Linked DNA regions of Homo sapiens: region 2 is linked to region 1. Evidence: fine-mapped expression QTL. A gene starts in region 1. The other region holds a variant in brackets. All regions are shown on one strand. Distances are from middle to middle.

What was found. PIP is the estimated chance that this variant, and not a neighbour inherited with it, causes the effect.
Region 2: its variant is fine-mapped to the expression of GDNF-AS1 in cerebellar hemisphere (GTEx, PIP 0.98).

The regions. Positions count from the first base shown.
Region 1 is chr5:37,835,094-37,845,111 of GRCh38, reverse strand. GDNF-AS1 (GDNF antisense RNA 1) reads right to left here and starts at 5,228. Exons shown (of 4, transcript NR_145476.1): 1 at 5,074-5,228. GDNF (glial cell derived neurotrophic factor) reads left to right here and starts at 5,071. Exons shown (of 3, transcript NM_000514.4): 1 at 5,071-5,605. RefSeq lists enhancers at 5,210-6,147, 7,605-7,674, 8,026-8,964.
Region 2 is chr5:37,860,836-37,871,237 of GRCh38, reverse strand. All of the region lies in intron 1 of GDNF-AS1 (GDNF antisense RNA 1), which reads right to left. Among named protein-coding and RNA genes, the nearest start is that of GDNF, 26 kb to the right of the region's middle. The variant A/G (reference allele first, on the strand shown) is at 4,739.

The sequences.
Region 1 (10,018 bases):
TCTGGAACTGATAAGTCTCATCAAAGTGATAACTTTAACCTATACTGGAGTCGGCAAATCATAGCCCTTGCGTCAAATCTTGTCCACTGCCTGCTTTTGTATGGTCCATGAGCTAAGAATGGTTTTTACATTTAAAAATCAAAAAAGTATTTCATAACATGGAAAAAATTATATTATCATTTACATATCATCTATGGGTGCTCTTGCAACACAAGGCTAGAGTTGAGAAGTTGCAACAGAGACAGTATGCCTGCAAAGCCTAAAATATTTACTATCTTTACAGAAAATGTTTGCTAACCCCAGACCTAAGCCATCAGACCATTTGCATAGTAAGAAAGTCTGCCGCAACACTCTCACCTGATTGAAGTTTTATCTCTGGAAAAGAGAAATTTCACAAAGTAATTTCAAGAGCCAAAAACAAAATTAGTGGACAATGAGACAATTTGATCCTAATGAAAGAAACTGCTGGAAATCACTGATAAATCTCCCTTGCCAATGTCAGGATTGATTTCTTATGAGAAACGATTTACTCCAAAGAATTTGTCACTTCCCACTACTTGCAAAAAGGCCATTACAGTGAATTTTTCCCCTTTCTTTTTTTCTTTTCACTTTTTTTTAAGTGGTCTGAAGGCAAATCTATCTTTCCTTCATGAGTAATAGGATCATTCGTGAAAATGGCTGTTAAAAAGCAAGCAAGCATGGAACAAATCGCAGTCCAATAAAGCTGTGACTTTGAAAAGGAAATTGCTCTGCTTAAGTGATGGATTCTGTTTCAGTCCTCACGACCCAAGTTATGAGGCAGTCCAGGGACCGGGGTCCTGGCCCTCATAGTCAAAGCAGCTGCAAAGCCCCACTGGGAGCTCGCCAAGGACTCTGTGAATGGCCAAAAGCTGACCCACCCACCCCATCACGTCTACAGGCTGCAGCCCTACAGGGCCACAGAGGCTGAGCAAGAATGTGGCAGTACCTAGCATCCAGTCTCCTCCAGCGACCCTTTCAGCCAGCCTGGAATGTCCCCTCACCCCCACCTCCTCTCTGCTTACTTACTCCAATCAAGGGCTAGTTTGAGTTCCATAACCTTATAATACCCTGTATTATTTTTCATCATTTTATGGTTGTGTTTTCTCTTCCCAAGGACTGTAAGATCCTTGGGCACAAATTGCACCGATCATTTAGACAACTTTCAGTTAGAGACTCACAAGAAATCCCAGTGAAGAGGACGATAGCGATGAAATAGGAAATTAGCAGGGCTTCGAACCTTTTTTCTCAAAGAGGAGATGGGAGGCTTGAACAATGTTTGTTCTCTCTGATTCTCAGGCAGGGCTTCCTAGATAAAAAGCTGAGATCTGGGGACAATGTGAGAATCCTTAGCAGTATGTTGCTGTTGTTGCTTTATCAGAGGATGTTCTGCCTATTGAGAGCAGAGTCGGTGCTGCAAATTCTTCCCTTCTGGACTTCGCTGAGGAACAGCTTCAAATCAAACTATTCCGTTTCCTTGAGAACAGAGAAGCTGGAGCCTCGGAGCTGTGGGGCTCCCTACTTTCAGCTTATGGGGGCGTGAGACTGTGACATCAGGCCATCCCCTTGTTCCCAAGACACCAAATGTTTGCTTCCCATCTTAACTCTATTCAAGGCAGTCACTTCAGAAGGAACTTTTGCTGAATTCATCTGTATGCTGTAGCCATGTAAATAAATGTTCTTTCAAAATTAGAAATATTTGCTTTAATTCTAAATTAAATTTAACATTTTCCTTTATATTACTGTTTTAAGATACTTTGTATTTTGAAAGGAATTTAATGTTTTGGAAGAGTCTTAGTCTTAGAACCTATCAAAATAGGGCTTCTTCATTTTGCTTTCAAAAAGAATCATAAGATGATTGCAACCACTGGGAAAAGATAAAGCCAATTCACTAACCTGGGAGCATCTGAAAAATCAACTCCTGAGCTCCACCCTTCAAGAGATTCTGATTTAATTGCCCTGAACAAGGCCTAGGTCTGGGACTTTTTTTTTTTTTTTTTTTTGAGACAGAGTCCCACTGTGTCACCCAGGCTGGAGTACAGTGGTGCAATCACTACTCACTGTAATCTCCACCTCTCAAGTTCAAGCAATTCTCATGCCTCAACCTCCCAAGTAGCTGGGATTACAGGTGCCCACCACCACAACCAGCTAATTTTTCTATTTTTAGTAGAGACTGGGTTTCGCCATGTTGGCCAGGCTGATCTCAAACTCCTGACCCCAAGTGATCCACCCACCTCAGCCTCCCAAAGTGCTGGGATTACGGGTGTGAGCCACCACCACTTCCAGCCTACAGGTCTGGGTATTTTTTGAAATCTCCCCAGTGTTTCACTGGCCATGTGAAAATCAGACTCCAGGACATGAGTCTCATATATACTTCTGTTGGAGTATTTATCACTTTATACCATCAATACTCATGAGCATATCTCCCTCTCTGTAGTGGTAGTTTCTGAAGGGCTGGGAGAGGACTGTCAAAACCCAAAGTGCCTACCATTAACCCACCTCCTTCTGAGGGACCATCCTCTGTGGAGGGAATGTGGGGAGGAACTCTAGGAAGTATCTCAAGCAAAGGTGGCCAGGCTGTGTACTCTGTGATGCCAACAACCTGGACATGAATGATTGGCCCAGGATAGGCACCTGCCCCCAGGTCTGCGGATATACAGGGTGTTTTGCAACCTGTAAGGAGACTGATACAAAGGCTCAGTCCAACTCTCACCCCTGGTGAATCCCTAGCAGGACAAACTAGATCCTTTCACTAAAGGAGTTTAAATGTGAGATCAACTGAGAGCTGAGCAGTTGGTAGCAGGAGCAGAAGCCAAAGGACACCCAGGGGAAAACAGCGAGAGAGGAGCTGAATCACCTTGGCGGCTAAGCCGTTAGTGGGGATCGGCAGATGCCTGCTGCTGAGGGGGCAGCGAGATAACCCAGTCACAGAGCTGTATCCTGAATGACCTTCCAGTTCCTGAACTTCAATCCAGTTTTCATGAGGCCTGGCTGGGTGGCCTTTCCGGAAGGCTTTTCGGAGACACGTGGCGGAATGGTGGAGATTCCGGTCAGCCTTCCTTCCACAGTAAATTCCCATTACTGAGGGTAAACCTCAGTGGTATCTGTTCCTTGCAACCCCCGCCCCCCGCCCAAAAAAAAAGCCCAATCAGCACAATGCCCAGGGCCTAGCACTTTGCCTGGCACACAGCAAGTGCTAGATATTTGCAGGTGCTTGGACGGGCTGATCATCCCCAGCAAAAAGCCCTCTAAAAATAAAGAAATCATTCAGAGTAAGAACATTGATGAGGGTCGTCTTCAAATTCCAAAAACAATGCTAAACGGCAATAAATATATTAAGCTTATTCTGCCCTCTAATTTCTGAATCTAACTACATTTCTACCATAAATCTATCAAAGAGGGAAATGTCATTTTCTGCAGAACTCCAGAGAGCATCCTAATTTCAGCTAAGGTATGTTTTGATGACTCGATTTTCACTTCGCTTAATCTTAAATCACAGCAACGTTAGTAAGAACAATTTTCCTCCCACACTCGCTTCACTGACAAACCTGCAAAGTAGCTGATCTTTGACTTTTAAGAAGTTTAATAATACATGATCTTCCCCCCACACTGCCACACGCATTTCCCCTGCCTATTGTCTGTATCAGCTACTTGAAGAACACATACTCCCCAACAACCGGATGAGTCATAAAATAAGAGGTACATGGACGTAAACTGAGCCTGTTTACACTTTCCCTGGCCCCAGCTAATAAAATAAAAGAGGTCCCACTGAATTCAGGTCCAATGGCTTCCGGAAAACAGGTTTCTGCTTAGCAAAGACATGCCCTATTTAGTACATTATTTTAGAGGTACAGCCAATTCCATGCCCCATGTGAATGAAATGTATTTATGGTTATAGCCATGCACAGGGTGTGTAAGGACTTGCCCTCCTCCTGTCCTCTACAAAAGAAGGCTCAGGCAGCTTCTGGTGGTGAACTAACCAACAAAAGGAATGCCCAGAAGGTCTCACCTCTCCCATCCACAGAGCTCTGGAATGGGGGCCGGGCCCCTGATCGCTGGAAACTCAGCATCCAAGTGGGCGCTTGCTGAAGTTTCCCATCTGCATTTTCGAAAATCTGGATAAAAGCAGGTTTAGCTCAACCTCCCCTAACCCGTTCCTGATAAAGTGATCTTACGCCTCTGGAATTGGGATTTTGAATGTATGTGCCTGCCCCATGTCTGGTATTAGATTACAACAGCATGAAAATGGAGCCTAGGACTGAGGAGCCGGCCAGCCTCAGAAGCCTTCTTCATTGCCTGCCATGTAATACATGATATGCAAAGCCTCTGACTTCAGCCAGCAGATATTTGGAGACCGTGTTGGCCTTAGCATGGGGACTAAACTAATGTGTGTTTAGGTCAGAAAGCGAATCAGAAAAGCCACTGGAGGGCACGTCACGGAGTGAGAGCCCTATAAATTCATCCCCACTCGCAGCGTCCCCTGGCAAATACTCGGCTTCCCTCACCCGGCCGCTCCGCACCTCTCCTTCTCGGTGCTAGAACTCCGGCCGGCAGCTCCTTTTCTCGCCACTGCCTCCTGCCCTGCGGAGAAGCGAGAGGGCGAGACACCCGAGCGGGAAGGCCGGCCTTCGACAGGCGCGAGGAAAGCCCGGCGCTGCCCTGCACCGGCAGAGCGCCACCCTCCCAGTGCGGCGCGCGGGGGCAAAGCCCGGCGCGGGCGCCGCGGTCAAGTTCGGATTGCCCCTTTCGGCTGGCCCGCGCAGAGCGCCGCACATTCCTCTCGATTTTTGATCCACCCGGAGAGGAGAAGGCGCTAGCCCCGCGGCGTCTCCGCGCTCTCAGCGCTCTCCCTGCAGCCCAGGGAGGGGCGCCTCGCGTCGCCCACTCGCACCCCGGCCCCCCGCCTCGGGAACTCCAGGGCCTCCTCGCTGCTCTCCTCTCCTCCCCCACCGCCAGGCCCAGCCGACGCCTCCCGACCCCTCCCTCCCGGGGCCCCGCGCCTCCCCTCCCCCACCCCGGACCCCGGACCCCCAGCCCGGGCTCTAGAAGACCAGCCTGCGCTCCTGGCGCCCTCATGTCTTCACGGGACTCCCCGCGCCGGTTGACGTGGTGTCTCGTTCGGATCTCCAGGCAAGACCTCAGCTCCGGCAGCAGCATCAGACAAACCAGTCTCGTGCTCCCAGGCAGTGCGCCCAGAGGAGGCGCAGAGCGCGGCAGCTGCCGCTGAGCCGCCCGCAGCGCCCCGGGCCCGCGCAGCCCCAGCCAAGAGCGCGACGCGCGCAGCCCTGTCAGCCCCCCACCCAAAGCAGCGGCGGCTGCTCGGACCTCGGCTTCTGGGGGTGCGGGGGCCCGGCGGGAGAGTTGCCGGCAGCCCTCGCCCTGTTGGCGGCGGCGGCGGCGGGAGTCTTGGCCGCCGCCTCCAGCGCGCCCTTGCTGCCCCGCGCGACCCCAGGATTGCGAACTCTTGCCCCTGACCTGTTGGGCGGGGCTCCGCGCTCCAGCCATCAGCCCGGATGGGTCTCCTGGCTGGGACTTGGGGCACCTGGAGTTAATGTCCAACCTAGGGTCTGCGGAGACCCGATCCGAGGTAAGTGAGGGAGCGGGCCGGGGAGCAGGGAGCGGGTGGTGCCTGCGTCGCGGGTGGGTGCGGCCGGCTGAAGGGCGCCCTAGTCAGAGGGGTGCGTCTGGACCCCAGAGCAAACGGTGAGAGTAGAAAGTGGAAAGACTAGAGGGAACCTAAGCTATGCGAGGAGAGAGAAAAGTAGAACCGGAGAGAGGCCGGCCTTTCGGAGGGGCATGTTGCCTTTTCCACGTGGGCAAAGATCTGTGGAGCCCCAGATGCGCCTGGACCCGGAATGCCCAAGAGGGGCAGTTTCCTTCCCCGACTCGGCCAGGTGCTCTTCCGTCAAGTCACAGAACGATTCAGGGCTTGGGTCATCTTCGAACCCACCGCCGTCGAAATGTGTCCTCTCTGGACGTGCAGAGATACTATCATTGCCAAGAGTGCAACTTACTATTGAGCTTGTTTTGATCTGTGCCAAGGAAAAGCGCAGGCCGGGGGAGGGGCTGCTGCAAAGGTGCTGAGAACCTAAAAATGGAGGGCTCACCTCCTCCGGGCGAGGTCTGGCAAAGCTACATTCCTCACCCGGTTGCCTGCACGTTCCTAACGCCCTCCACCCCAACTAACCATCCCCGTCGAGGTTAGGAGAGGGGCTTTCTTGCCAGTCCTGGATTCAAATCTCTGTCTCGAACGTATTCTTGAGACTCCACTAGGCCATTGAGGTTATTATTTTAATGACCCCTTTTTCTCCTGTACTCTGTGCCGCCTTCCAAAAACACCCCACCACCACTGCCACTACTTTACACCACCTCGAGGCTAATTCCGCACTGGTGGTTTGTTTCCTGCCCCAACGAAGAAAAACGAACCCTCTTCGGGCTGGAAACGGACTTTCGCGGGTTCCCGCCAGCTTCCTGGGGCCCAGCTAGTTTCGGCTTTGGTAGAATCCGCCGCCAGGACCCATGTGCGCGCCCCCGGGGGGCTTACCCATCCCAGAGCTCGCGACCCTTCTGCTCATAGGCGGGGACAAAGGCAACTCTTCCGGCCCCTGCTGCGGAGATGTTAGAACGCGCTCGACTCTTGCTCAGTGTTTGGAATATATGCTTAGGTATTTCAAGGAAGAGATGTTTCTTCCAACCTCATTCACGCACCCAGTCCCGCAAAGCCGTCAAAGCCGGCCTCGACCAAACTCGTACTGTTTCGCTGCGCCTTCGCTTTGTCAGGGAAGGTGGCGCCTTTTCAACAAGTAACAAGTGTCCGATCTCTGGGAAGTCCGCCGTGTCCCTAGCCCTTTCCCGCTAGCAATTCGGGTGCTCTCGGGCCTGGAACCTGGCCCTTTAAACAGACCGCTTTCCCAGTTTGCCTGCGAGAAGTGTCCCAAATTCTTTTTCCTTCCCTCATCTTGGGCCCCGCAGTTATGGGGGGTTGAGGGGAGAATAAGTCCTCTGTCAGTCAAGGACACGAAGCATAGTTAAGAAAAGCAATAGATCTTCCAGCAATTTCTGTCTCTACCTCCCCCCGCCAAAAAAAAAAAAAAAAAAACCGAGTTTATAGCAAACCCGTCTCCCCGCCCCACCGCCTCCTTTTTCTCTCTCTGAGACCTGGATCTTGAAGGCAAAGCCCAAACAAACCTCCCAGCCTGCCAGGCACAAGAAGGTGCGGGGGCACTGACGGCGGGAGCGCTGCCTCCTGCGAATCTGTCACGGTGACGCGTGGAAGGGGTGAGGGATGGTCTGAAAGCAGGTTGCCAAGAAACCCGCTCAGGTGAAGTGGGGAGAGGAAAACCAGCGAGAATGGAGGGGTGGGAGCCTGAAAAGCAGAGATGCCAGTAAGGACCTCCACAGGTTCCCGGGCTAATGGGATTTCGGGAGGCTCGTAGAGGGAGTGGTGGTTCTCCGGTTTTATAACTAAAATGATAACACAGCCTCCGGGCCGCGTGGGCGCGACACGGCTCAGACGGTTTCTGGTGCCCCCTGCTGCCGGGAACTCAGAAGTGCCTCGCGGCGAGCGGCTGCTTCTGCGAGCACTTCTGTGGCTTTCCTGGGCGTCCTTGCCTCCCCAGGCCTGGGGACCCACAGGTGCCGGCGCCCACGGCCTGCTGCTTTTGCCCTGCCGGGACGTGGTGGTCCCGGACCCAGAAGGGGACCAGCTTGCCAGGCACGAGAAATGGTGCGCGGTCACCTGGCAGAGCAGAGCCCCCGTCACTTGAGGAGCAGAGCTTGGTTCTCGCACGTGGCGGCGCGTAAAGCAGTTTGCACCGCGGGCAAAGGCCCATGGTTGAGGAGAAGCGCGTCGGGCAGATGTAGATGTGTTTTGGGAAAGCGATAGAGAGACAAACTGAGAAGCCGAGGGGTGGAGCCCACACGGACTCTAAGAAAAACGTCCTAGTAGACGCTGTGTGTGCCGAGTCCCCCAACCTCCCCCCTTTTCCCCCGCCCAGCAAATACCGAGAACGAAAGAGCCCCTCGGACTGGAGCCGGTCCCGGCGGCGCTCAGAGGGAAGAATGCGCCCTCCCTGTCCCGGGGGAAGAGGGGAGCTCGATCCGGGCGCTGGCGGCGCTCGGCCGAGGGCGGGAACCGCAGCCGGGAGCCTCCTCTGGCGACGCGGGGAGTTTTCCACTGTGTAGTCTTTTGCCAGCTTCGCCACACTTCTAATTGAGGATCTCCACGTCCAATTTAAAAAGCCCTCCGTCGGCCAAGCAGGAAAAAAGGGAAAACCCTCTTAAGACGGAAGGGAAATCTAGTGCCTCTGTGGCTTCCTGCTGGCGGGCACCGCGATTTGGAATGGCGCATTAACCCCGCGCCTCCATGCTCCTCCGGTCGGACCGCCAGCCATTTCGCACGCACCCGGGAGCTGGCACCGGCGGGGGGCTTGAGGGGGGAAGCTCGCGTTCCCCAGGTCCTAGCTGCCAAAGTACCTTTCTGGGCTCATTTTGCATGGCCTGGTGCAGTTTTCCTGTGTCTGCACATCGCGACCCAGAACCTAGCTTTTTCCCGAGTTTGCAAACCAGCCCGCGAGGCAAGAGGCGCTCGGTGCTGCAGGTCACTAGGAGTTTCTAGTCCCTACACCCTCTCGAGCCCAACAGCTGCATAGCGAACAAACAGACGCTCAGGAGATGTAAAATGCATTAGTCTCTGCAGAGGTGGGAGGTGGCGGCCGAATTAAAGGCTTCCCCGGGTTGCCTGCACCGGGACAGGGAGTGGGGTTCCGGGTAGAGATGAGGACTGGAACCCTGGAATGGAGGCGGGGGTGCCTGTGAACTAATGGCTAGGAAAGGCACTGAGGTTTTTGCATTAACCTGGGTTTTGCATTTCCCTCCCGCATGGGAAAAAAAAAATCGAGTTTTTCCTAAGAACCGTTTTATGGAGCCGGTCGAGGGGATAGGATAATCGACTGCACGAATCTCGCAGATTCCGCTTGAGGAGATTCTCTCTAGGTCACTAGTGCCCTGGAGACGAACCCTGGGATTAGGAAGGCACTGGATAACACTGCACCCCAAGATGCCTCGGTTCTTCCCCGTCTCCTCATTGGTTGGAACTCGCCCCCAAATTTACAGCCCCTTTTTCTAACCCACCCCCAGCTGCGTGGCCCTCCTTTGTAGGGGTGTGAGGATTGAGAAGCCAAACAGAGCCCACCTCGGGCTGAAAAGAGCTGAACCCCCTACTCTGCGCCGTACCACGGTCTAGGCCTTCCAGTGCCAGAGCACCTCCAAAGCGTCCGAGACTGGGTACAGTCGTCCAGGCGTGACGGGGGCGCGGGGAGCCAGTGACTCCTCTGGGAGGGGAAGGGATTAGGGCCAGAATCTCTCAAAGGTGCAAAAATCCAGTCAAGAGAGGGTTTTCGGGTATACCACGGAGGATTAAAACTTTCAAGACAAATGCAGTCTTTGCCTAACAGCAATGGTAAAGCATTTACTGAGCTCTTACTACATGTTCCGCTAGAGCTTGTCATGCGTGATTTAATGTTCATAACTTTAAGAGGTGGGAGGAGTATTTTAAATCGAATCAGTGCTTTGGGAAGTTAAGTAACTTAAACCAGATATCCCATACAGGCCAAAAGTCTCCAAGTCCCTGCTAACTTCTTGCTCTCGCAACAGAATACCTATTTAGGTGGGAAGAATGAGGTGTGGGCGGCAGGCTGGGTGAGTGGTGCCCCCGAGCCTGCCCTCGACTAGCCAGAAGCCCGGTTGGGACCCGAGGCAGGGGAATGCGCTTGATTTTATTTCCAAAGAGAAACACCGTCCTTGCTTGGGCCGAGGGCTCGTTCAGGGGCCTATAGGAGCTACCGGGACAAGAAGGGGAGGTCTCTGGTTGGGGTGGAGGACGAAGGGTGGGAACTACCCGATTGCCCCCCAGGAATGGGGGATGTTGCGCACCAGTAGAGGGGACTGGACAGGAATCGTGGTGGTGGGGGTGGGGGGTTAACTGGAGGGGACAGCAGCC
Region 2 (10,402 bases), 26 kb before region 1:
AGCTATTTGGAATCTGCTGTTTCCAGTGACCAATACCACTCATGTTTGACATCTCTTGATATTGCTCCTGTGGTGTGTGCAACATTGCAAGAGTGCAGTGCTAAGCTCTGAAAGCCCCAGATGGCAGCTCAGGGGGAAAATACTATAGAGCAAATTATTTTCTCTATTTCCTCCTCAATCTTGCCCCTCTAGTTCCTAGGGCTTATGAAGGTCAACAGAATGTATCCTTAGAACTGAAAGCTGTTGCTCCTACCTTTTCCACCTTCAGAAAAAAATCATTAGCTGCAGTGCAGATAGTTTCATCACAAAAAAGTAACAAAATTGATCAACTGAAAATCTTTGTGGAAGAAGAGATTTTGTTTTTGTCATCTCCCTTAAGCCCTTTCCATGTTGGCCCGTGCAGCCTGAACATCACTGAGTAGGGAATTTCATACAGGGTTGCAGTAAGTGCTCCCCACAACCCAAAATACCTCCCCCTTAGCCTAATAAAACATCTGACACGCTTGCATGAATCCTTTTAGACTAAGACGCTGAGGCTGAATTGTCCTCTGGGAAAAGAAAGCAAAAATCCAACTGGCCTGCATTACTGAGGAGACCTTGAAAGACTGACGTAAGATAGCCCCCGATGGAAGAAAACGGGCAGGGTCCATGGGGGTGGCCCGCAGGATCACTGTGGACCTGCTGGGGGTGCGACAAAGGACAATGTGAGAAGGAGGAGATAGTGACAATAAACTTTGGTTATGCCAAATTTTCTGAAGAGCCAGCACTTCTTACTGTGAAAAACTGATCTGGAGTGAAGTGATGAATTATCCCATCCAAAATTACCAATTCTTTTCAAGAACTCCTTTCACTTTTATTCAATCCCCTAATAAAAGCAGGCTTGTTGTCCTCATTAAGCCCAATGTATTGGCATCTGAAGTGTATTGATGTACTCGCATGTGATTTCCCTAATTACACTGGAACTTGCAATGCCCAAGAACTCTGCTGATGAAAATAATCCTTCTGTAATATTTCCTTTTTGACTGGGCACCTCTGGGCATTAAAAACACATTTTCAATGAAAACTAGGAAGGGCTTTCTTAGTTCTTATCACATTAATCTTGTCATCTAAACTTTTCTACTGGAAAGCTAGCTTCTTCTATAAATCCATTTCTCAAATTATTTTGGAAGTAACCTAAGATACTACATCAATGAGAAGGCCCAGAGCAGACGTGGGAGGAAGGAAAGAGGAATCAATGACAACCTTCAGCATCTATTCTTTAAGGACTAGCAGCTTAAACCCCCTAAAAAGAACATGTGAATAATCAACTCACTCCTGAAGCTGAAGGGAATAATTCTATCTGAAACAGAAATCCCTCATTATAATATGGTTTTCATAAGCAGATATTTCCAAAGGGACAGAGAGGTAGGGGACAGGGAGATGTCAGAATATATCCATCCAAACCCAACATTGAAAAGCCCGCAAAACACATTTAGCTACAAGTTGGAGTCAGTTCTAATTCCCAGTATGTCACACAGGCGTCTCACAGCATTCACCACAACACCCCTGTGACTGTCCAAGCACATCCACACCTTGCCCTTGGACAAGTCACACCTTGTCCCTGAGTCTAATTTCTCACCCATACAAAGGAAAGGTTTGCCTAAGGGACCTCTGCAGTCTGTCAAAACTATCCTATAATGGATATAGGATATATCCTATAGTGGAATTACCCTGATGCTCTCCTACTGGCCCTGCTGTGTCTTAATTTTTTGGTGCCTTAAGTCCTTACAGCATGACTCTTCTCAAGACTACCCAAGGAAGCACACTTTCAGTGTTTTGCAATACCACATGTTATGGTTTGGCTGTATCCCCACCCAAATCTCATCTTGAATTGTAGCTCCCATAATTCCTACATGTCGTGGGAGGGACCCGGTGGGAGGTGACTGAATCATGGGGGCAGGACTTTCCCATGTTGCTCTCATGATAGTGAATAAGTCTCATGAGATCTGATGATTTTATAAAGGGGAGTTCTCCTGCACAGGCTCTGTTGCCTGCTGCCATGTAAAACATCTCTTTGCTCTTCCTTCATATTCTGCCATGATCATGAGACCTCCCCAGCCATCTGGAACTGTGAGTCCATTAAACCTCTTTCCTTTATAAATTACCCAGTCTCGGGTATGCCTTTATTAGCAGCATGAGAACAGACTAATGCACCACATCCAAAATGCCAAGAGAGAACTTCTTTGGGTGCATATTCAGAGTGGTTCATGGAAAAGCTAACAGTGCAGGCCTACTGCCTGCTGAATGGACCTTCTAAGCACTATCAGTGCAGAATAGCCCAGAACTAAGGGAGATTTTGCCCCTCAGGAGACATCTGGCAAAATCTGGAGACATTTTTGGTTGTTGCAACTTAGTGGGGAAGGGTTGCTCCTGGCATCTAGTGAGTAGAAACCACAGGTGCTGCTAAACATCCTACAATGCACAGGACAGCCACCAATAACCAACAGCCATTCTGCCCAAAATGTCAATAGTGCTGAGGTTGAGAAACCCAGGCCTAGATCGGTAGAACCAGCAGTGTGGGGCAGCCAGCTCTTACCAGTGCATGAGAGTTAAATGTGTGCATCTCTTTCCAGTTCCATGTTCATGAGGTCACTCTGGTAAGATGAAATCTGCCATGGTGGGAGGATTTACACCACAGAAATCAGCAAATCAGCTCTACAAATCAAGGCAATTTTATGTCTGCGAGCGAGTTGTTAAACATTTATCAACACACCGCTAATCCAAACCAGCACCTGAAGTAACTCGGAAGCCCAAAGTTCTTTCAGCAAGAAGGCTATACTGTAGTGAGATGACTTTACCTATGGGAAAGAAGTGGGACTTCCTAACATTACCTAACAACCATGACAAAAAGGAAGGACACAGAATGAGGGACATCGTGGGCAGATATTGGAAGAATCTCCTGTTCTTTGGTTTCATTTGCTTACTTTTAAATATGCACTGCCTTCTTCCAAAGAGCACTTGAGGGGACAATTAGGAAATACAGAACAGGCTTGTTTACTAAACTGCTCAGAGGAAAAGCATAATGGAAAAATAATAATTCAATACCTTTAATTTTGAAAAATTGACGTACAAAAATAAAGATCAACACACAACAGGTGCCAAGCCCGAGGAGCAGGCAAGCTGATCCTTCCGCTCCAGCCCAGCTGCCTGACAGACACATTTCCTAGTGGGTCCTGGATGCTGGCAAATCTGGACTCTACCAGACCCCCCCACGAGGAACCGCAGGGCCCCCTCTTGCCTTCCAGAGCTCCACACGGAGGATGGAATGCCCTACAGAAACTCAAGCCACATTGTAGGGAAACCCTTTTCCAGCTTGCTCTTTATTGCTGTCTTGATATTTGCCTCTGGTTGCTATGGCAAAATCTGGCATTGGAATTTTTCTGGGAACAAATAGGAAATAGTTGTGGGGGAGGTTCAAGATCCTACATACATTTAGGTCTGGTTATAAACACTCATAGTAAAATAAAGCATTGACTCATTAAACCCAAAACAAACCAAAAAAGAATTTTTTTAAATCCTCTTTCAAAAACTCTTACTTTGTTCCAAAGGTGACCAGCTAGAAAGTTGTTTGCCCTTATGGACAAGATCACCAGCAAAATGAACTAACAGGTTAGAGGACCGATCAGTTGGGTTACTGGTCACCCCATGCCAAGTCACACGCTGCCTTTAGCATGTTTCATTTCTGGAGCTGGAAGTGCTCACCCTACACAGAAGAAATTTTCCATTTGCAGGAGTGGATTATTTTTTCCAGCCTCACTGAGGAATATGCCAGGACTGCAGCCATTCAAACTCTGGCACCACCTAAGAAAAGCTTAGGAGGACATGCAGGCCTGTGGCACACCTTGAACCCAGAAGGGCCGGGTGTCTCTTTGTTACTGCCTAGTAATATAGTTTGGATATTTGTCCCCACCCAGATCTCATGTTGAATCGTAATCCCTAATGCTGGAGGAGGGGCCTGGTGGGAGGTGTTTGGATCATGGGGGCAGATCCCTCATGGCTTGGTGCCATCTTCACAATAGTGAGTGAGTTGTTATGAGACCTGCTCATTTAAAAGTCTGTAACACCCCCCACCACCATCCCCAATCTCTCTCGCTTGCTCCTGCTTTCAACTTGTGGCATGCCTGTTCCCGCTTCCCGTTCTGCCACGATTAAAAGCTACCTGAGGTTTCACCAGAAGCTGAGCAGATGCCAGCACTATGCCTCCTGTATAGCCTGCAGAACTATGAGCCAATATAACCTCTTTTCTTTATAAATTACCCAGTCTCAGGTATTTCTTTATAGCAATGTAAGAATGGCCTAATACATCTATCTTTCCCTAAGGCCACTATATCTGAAGAGTTCCTGAATCTCCACTTTTCACCTAAGCCCCAACTGTTCTCTCAGTTCACATCCACAGCTCACATGCCCTGACTTGTCTCCTAGGGCCAGCCATATATTTGGGAAGAAACATTGCCACTCATACACGGTGAATTAAAGAGGGTGAAAGTCCTCTCTGCCCTGTATGAGTTAGCCCGTGTGGCTGGGTGTCCCTAGCATTCAAGGCTGTCATCAAAATACAAAGCCTCCTTAGAGATGTATGGAGAGGTATCATATTGTAGACTTTACCAAAGATTTCAAAGGGGAGATTCTTCAAGTGCCATCTGTCTCCAACCTATCTTTTTTCCATCCTATTTCCTAATGCTCCCCAACAAGCTAGCTC[A/G]GCTCCAGTCAAGCTCATATCTTACTATCTCTTGCATCTACCATAGATGCATCAGAAATAATGATAAAAATATGTTACTACATACAGCAATCTTTACTTATCAGAGTATCTCTAAAAGACAACATATTTGTTTGGAGTAAATACTTAGGTAAGCCATTTGGGAAGGAGAGGAGAGATCTCAAGGTTGTGTTCAAATAGCAAACAGCGGTCACTGAAGTATTATTTATAAAATAAGGGAGGAAAGAAAAAGCAATAGGTAACAGGAGGCAGGGCCTATGTGGGAGGGGACTAAAGAGGTAATACGTATAAGAACAACTACTTTTCTAGAAGTCACCACCACCTGACACTGTTCCAATTTCTCTATATATATCAACTCATTTAATTCTTACTACAATCCGATGAAGTAGTTAATAATATTATCCCCATTGCACAGGTAGGGAAACAAAGCCCCTGAACCCTTCAGTAACTTGCCCAAGGTTACCTGGCTTGTGAATGGTGGAGATAGTAAGTGATGGTCTGACTCCAGACTGTACTTTGAACCACTTTACTCAATGGCCTCAGTGGGGAAGCCTCTGCTTGCAGTTGAGGAAGGACTGCAAAGCAGTAGACTTAAAAGATTTTATCAAATATAAGAAGACATCAACATAAGACACACCATTGTCTTATGTATTGCTACCAAAGGAAACATGCTGCCAATTATACTATGACACACCAACACAGCAAGACAGAGTCTGGTTTCCAAGATTTCAAATACTCAACTAGGAAAAAGGTATATATTGGAAATGATGAACACAGTATCAAAGTGGAATATGAATCTGTTGTGGGGGTTACAGTGAAACCTCCATCATCTTCCCTTTGAATCTCCACAGTAAACTCCACATTTCTCACAAATGCTTTCGTGAGCATTGATTATTGAGAGGAGGTGGTAGCAAGGAAAAACTCCCAGAAGTGCCATTTGTGTGTGTGCACGTGTGCACACGTGTGCAGAGGCAGAGCAAAGACAATTTTAGCAAATTCAAAATGTACTTACCCTACATTTAGTTATGCAAAGAAAATGTACCTTCATTATTTTCTATAATTGATCCAATCTTTCTCCTGAGCTCTTCACTTTACTGAGTAAAGAAGGAGAATTAAATGTCATCTAGTCCAATAATTTTAAATGCCTTCTGGATATTTTGGTATTGCAGCACCCCCTGCCCCCTACCACTGCTCCACTTTCCCATTTTTCTCCAAGATGACTCCTGGGGGAAGGGTCTGCTTCATGGTGGTAGGAAAGGGGAGGAAGGTCCTTGGCCCACATGATTCATATGTGCAGGTTCCTGGCCTGTCCTCCAGTTCATCTAGTTCCCACCCTGGAAGGCCTTGATGCTGAAGTCTGTGGCTGATCTGCCTGCTGTGTGCTTACTGGGGCCATGCTGACCCAGCTCCACTTAGGTCCTCGTAGGAGCTGCATATCCTTCTGAGGTATGGCTATGTCTCCCATTCCATCTCCACCCTGGGCAGTACCCCCGCTGGCAACCCCCTGATAAGCTCATCAGCTGGGACTACTTACTCATGGCACTCACAGCATGCTTGCTCAATGAGCTTGGGTGTCACTTCCAGTTCCTCCCAATCGCAGCTCCTTGCCAGCCACTACACTGAGGCTGTCATATTAAAGAAGCTATTTGCCATCCTACCTCTATCAGGGATCCGCTGAGAGGCTCACCTGTTGGCAGCTACCTGTGCCCAAGAGACAACAGTCACCTGAAGGGGAAATGCAAACATTATACAATGTTGCAATTAGTGTTAATGGAATTAATAAAGATCAAGATCACCTACTGAGCACATTAGCATGCAGATAGCATGTTCTAGTCCTAGTGGATACTCAGTATATTTCCAGCTTAGTCCATGATTTTAGACTGGAGTTCTATGAAGACAGGGACAATGCTTATCTTGTTCATCATTGTATTTACATGCATAATGGGCACTGAATATTTGTCAGATGCATGTTAAAGTTTAAAAGGGAAGAATAGCAAGTCACTTACATTAAAGGATAATGTTGTCTAGGCCAGTGGTTCTTAAGTGGAGATAACTTTATCCCCCAGAAAACATTCGGCAACATCTGGAGACATTTTTGGTTGTCACAACTGGGGAGGGGAAGCTACTGGCATCCAGAAATGCTGCTCAACATTCTACAATGCAAGTGACACCCCCAAAAAAACAAAGAATTATTTGGCCTAAAATGTCAATAGTGCTAGAACTGAGAAACTCTGATCTAAGGATTTGAGAGCTACAGATCATGGTGTGCTGGTAAATGTTAACAACAGGCTCTCTGGATAAGGGAGGGACTCCTGATTCATAATGTTTACCAATTTACATGAAATAAATACTACAACCATGGCTGATTTCAAGCTCCAACGAGACATCATTTTGAAACACACAGTTGGGAAAAGGGCATAGCAGAGCACACTGTTATACAATATTTCCACCCTGCAGTTAAAATAGACTGAAATAACCCCAACAGCATAGATAATAGTAACATATAGTAAAATAATTTGTAAGTAATGAATTTTTATTATTATTATTACTACCTTTGTTTTTAATGAAATATATTTAAATGTAAGTTTAGGCCATTTCACTTTTATAATGGCTGTATTTAATAAGTGGTTCACAACATTCCTGAAACTTTAACATTGGCCTTTGTGAGTCCGTATGAGTGACCCCCAGCATATATCTGGCCAGGGATAATGCAAATGGAAAGAGATAAGTTGAAGGGTTGAAGGGAGGCAAGAGGACACGCTGCAAACATCAAACAGTGCCCTTGGCCCGTGTAGTGAGAGGAGGCTGAAGAGCAACTGCAGAGACATCCTGAAGCACAGAGCACCTTGTGAGATATGAACATGGGAGCCACCCAGAGGAGAAAAGGTGTTGGGATGTGTTCCCTAATGGGCGACCCCACTTGCTCTACTTTGAAACATTAAAAATCCAGCTTCCAGCTGGTTGCGGTGGCTCACGCCTGTAATCCCAACACTTTGAGAGGCTGATGCAGAAAGATCGCTTGAGGCCAGCAGTTTGATATCAGCCTGGGAGGTATAGCAAGACTCCACCCATCTCTACAAAATAAAAATTAAACAAATTAGCCAGTCACAGTGGTGTGTATCTATAGTTCCAACTACTCAGGAGGCTGAGGCTGGAGGATCGTTTGAGCCCAGGAGTTTGAGGCTTGCAGTGAGCTATGATTGTGCCACTGTACTCCAGCCTGGGTGACAGAGGGAGATCCTGTATCAAAATTAAAACCTTAAAAAAATCCCCTCTCATGTATCTATCTATAGACAGATATAGATAGATAGATAGATAGATAGATAGATAGATAGATAGATAGATAGACAGACAGACAGACAGACAGATAGATAATATAGATGGGTAGATAATAGGTAGGTAGATAGATGGATAGATAGATAGATAGATAGATAGATAGATAGATAGATAGATAGATAGAGATATAGGTGATATAGATATAGATACAGATATATTAATAGATATACCCTACTGGTTCTGAGTAACACCATATTAAAAGTAAAAGCAAATGAAAACAGCGTTCCTCAGTACCTCCCCTAACACAAAGAGAGAAGTGAATAGAATTTAAATGGAGGGAAATGTATACATAGTTTCCTATTTTCTTAAGAATTAAACATCGAGGACTGTCTGCTATAGTGTTCTATCACATTGTGCAGGCTTAATAAATAAAGAATTTAAACCAATAAATAAAGAAATTAAATTCTTAATAAATAAAGGATTTAAACCTTCCCCAGGGGAGACAGGAAAATGCACACTGGCATGAGCACATACTGCTCAGGTTAGAGGGCTTCTGTCTGCTCCCCCGGGGAGAATCTGGCCCAGTAAAGGAAGCACTGCTTTCGTGTGTGCTTTAGGAGTCTATCCAGAGCTGCAGTCCTCATGGCTGGAGAAGTGAACAGGGCGCAGAGCTGATCCTGCTAAACTGCATCCACTTCCCGAGGTTTGGGATGAACCCATCAAGGTCTCAAGACAGAAGGCCGGGGTAGCCTAGCTTCTCCCTCTGTAGACTAGGGCTGCTGAATGCAGGGAAGTCCATGTAGCTCCAGAGAGGCCAGCGGGTCTCTCCAAAATCCCATTCCTCCACTTCCAGTAACATCTAACATCTGCCCACCTCAATGGACCTGCTCTCTGTTAAACAAGTAGAGTGTTTGAATTCCACATTTTCCTTTATAAAAATCCTCAGATGGCCAAATCTCAAAAAATATCCACATGTGAACGTGGGATTTGGAAGACAAAATAGAACGGGGAGGAGCGCTGTTACTCTTAGGCCCAGGAAAGGGGCACCCACAGTACTCCTCTGGTTGTGCCCTTTCCTATGGAGTGAAGAGTTGAGGGGCACAGAGATGTACCCACCTGGAGGCTGCAGCCTGCCTCTCCTCTTTCAGACTATGTCTTGGCTACGAGAGACCTTGAATCCCCTGTCCAAGTGGTCTTAAGTCCACTTCCAGAGCTTTCCCCAGGCCTTTTCTCTCCACGGCAGGTCACACCGCCAGTGCACACACCCCTAAGCCATGAGGTGCTGTTTGTGGGATACAGCTTGGATGTGTAGGCTAGGATGTCCACACACATATGTGTACCACCCCCTTATGTGGACTGCCAGGGTGGGAAGAAATGAGGGACAGGCCACAGGCCATGGGCTAAATGTCCACACCCTCTGAGCCACCACATTCCTCCATGGTGCTCCAAAACCCACAGATGCTCAGTGCACAGCAGCCCTTGTGCACAAGTGTCTTTATCAAGGCAGGAGGATGGAGCATCTTTTATTTAACACTTTGCCAGCTTGATTTATCACTTTTAAATATTTAGGTATGGTATATGAGCCTCTGTTTTTACACTTGCAGGGCCCCACAAAAGTTAGGGAAGGACCTGGGGAAGGAAAAACATTTAAGGGAGGGATGGGGGATCATCAGGATCAAAAAGGACCAAAATTGTTTCTTTGCTATGTGGTGCTTAAAATAGTGCCCAGTACATAGTAAGTTTTCAAATATTTGTTGAAAGGGAAAAGTTGGAGGGGGGAGGGAGAGAGAGAAAGAGCGGGGAAGGAATTTGTGTTAAACCTTTCACACTTTCAGGAGTTTGTGACACGGAGTCAGAGAGGTCAGAATTCAAATCCTGTCTTTACCATTCCACTTGTGCATCCTTGGGCAAGTTTTTCAACATCTCTGATCCTCAATGTCCTCATCTGGAAAAAGGAGAAGCCACGCTTATCACATAGGAGAACAAATTAGTATTAACTGCTTACACTGTTCTCAAGACCATCACCATTTTCATTAAATGCTCCACTCCCTCAATCCCATTTAATTTATAAGATGTAATGTGAGTATCAATTTGTTTCAAATAACCTCAAGGAGGCTATTTCTACTGACATGGCTAATGCAGAGAGAGAAATATTTCATGATCAGCCCCACCAACATCCTCAAATGCCCCCCTACCACCATAGCAGGTGCTGCTGGTGCCCACCCATACCCCTAGGCACTCATCACTTCAGTACTCAGTAGTCTGACTTCCAGTTGCCAAACCAGCATTTCTTTGCATAAAGGCATCCTCAGACCTCCAGAGCCCACTAAGCCACTTGCATGGCAGGACTGCCTTCAACCAATGATGGGC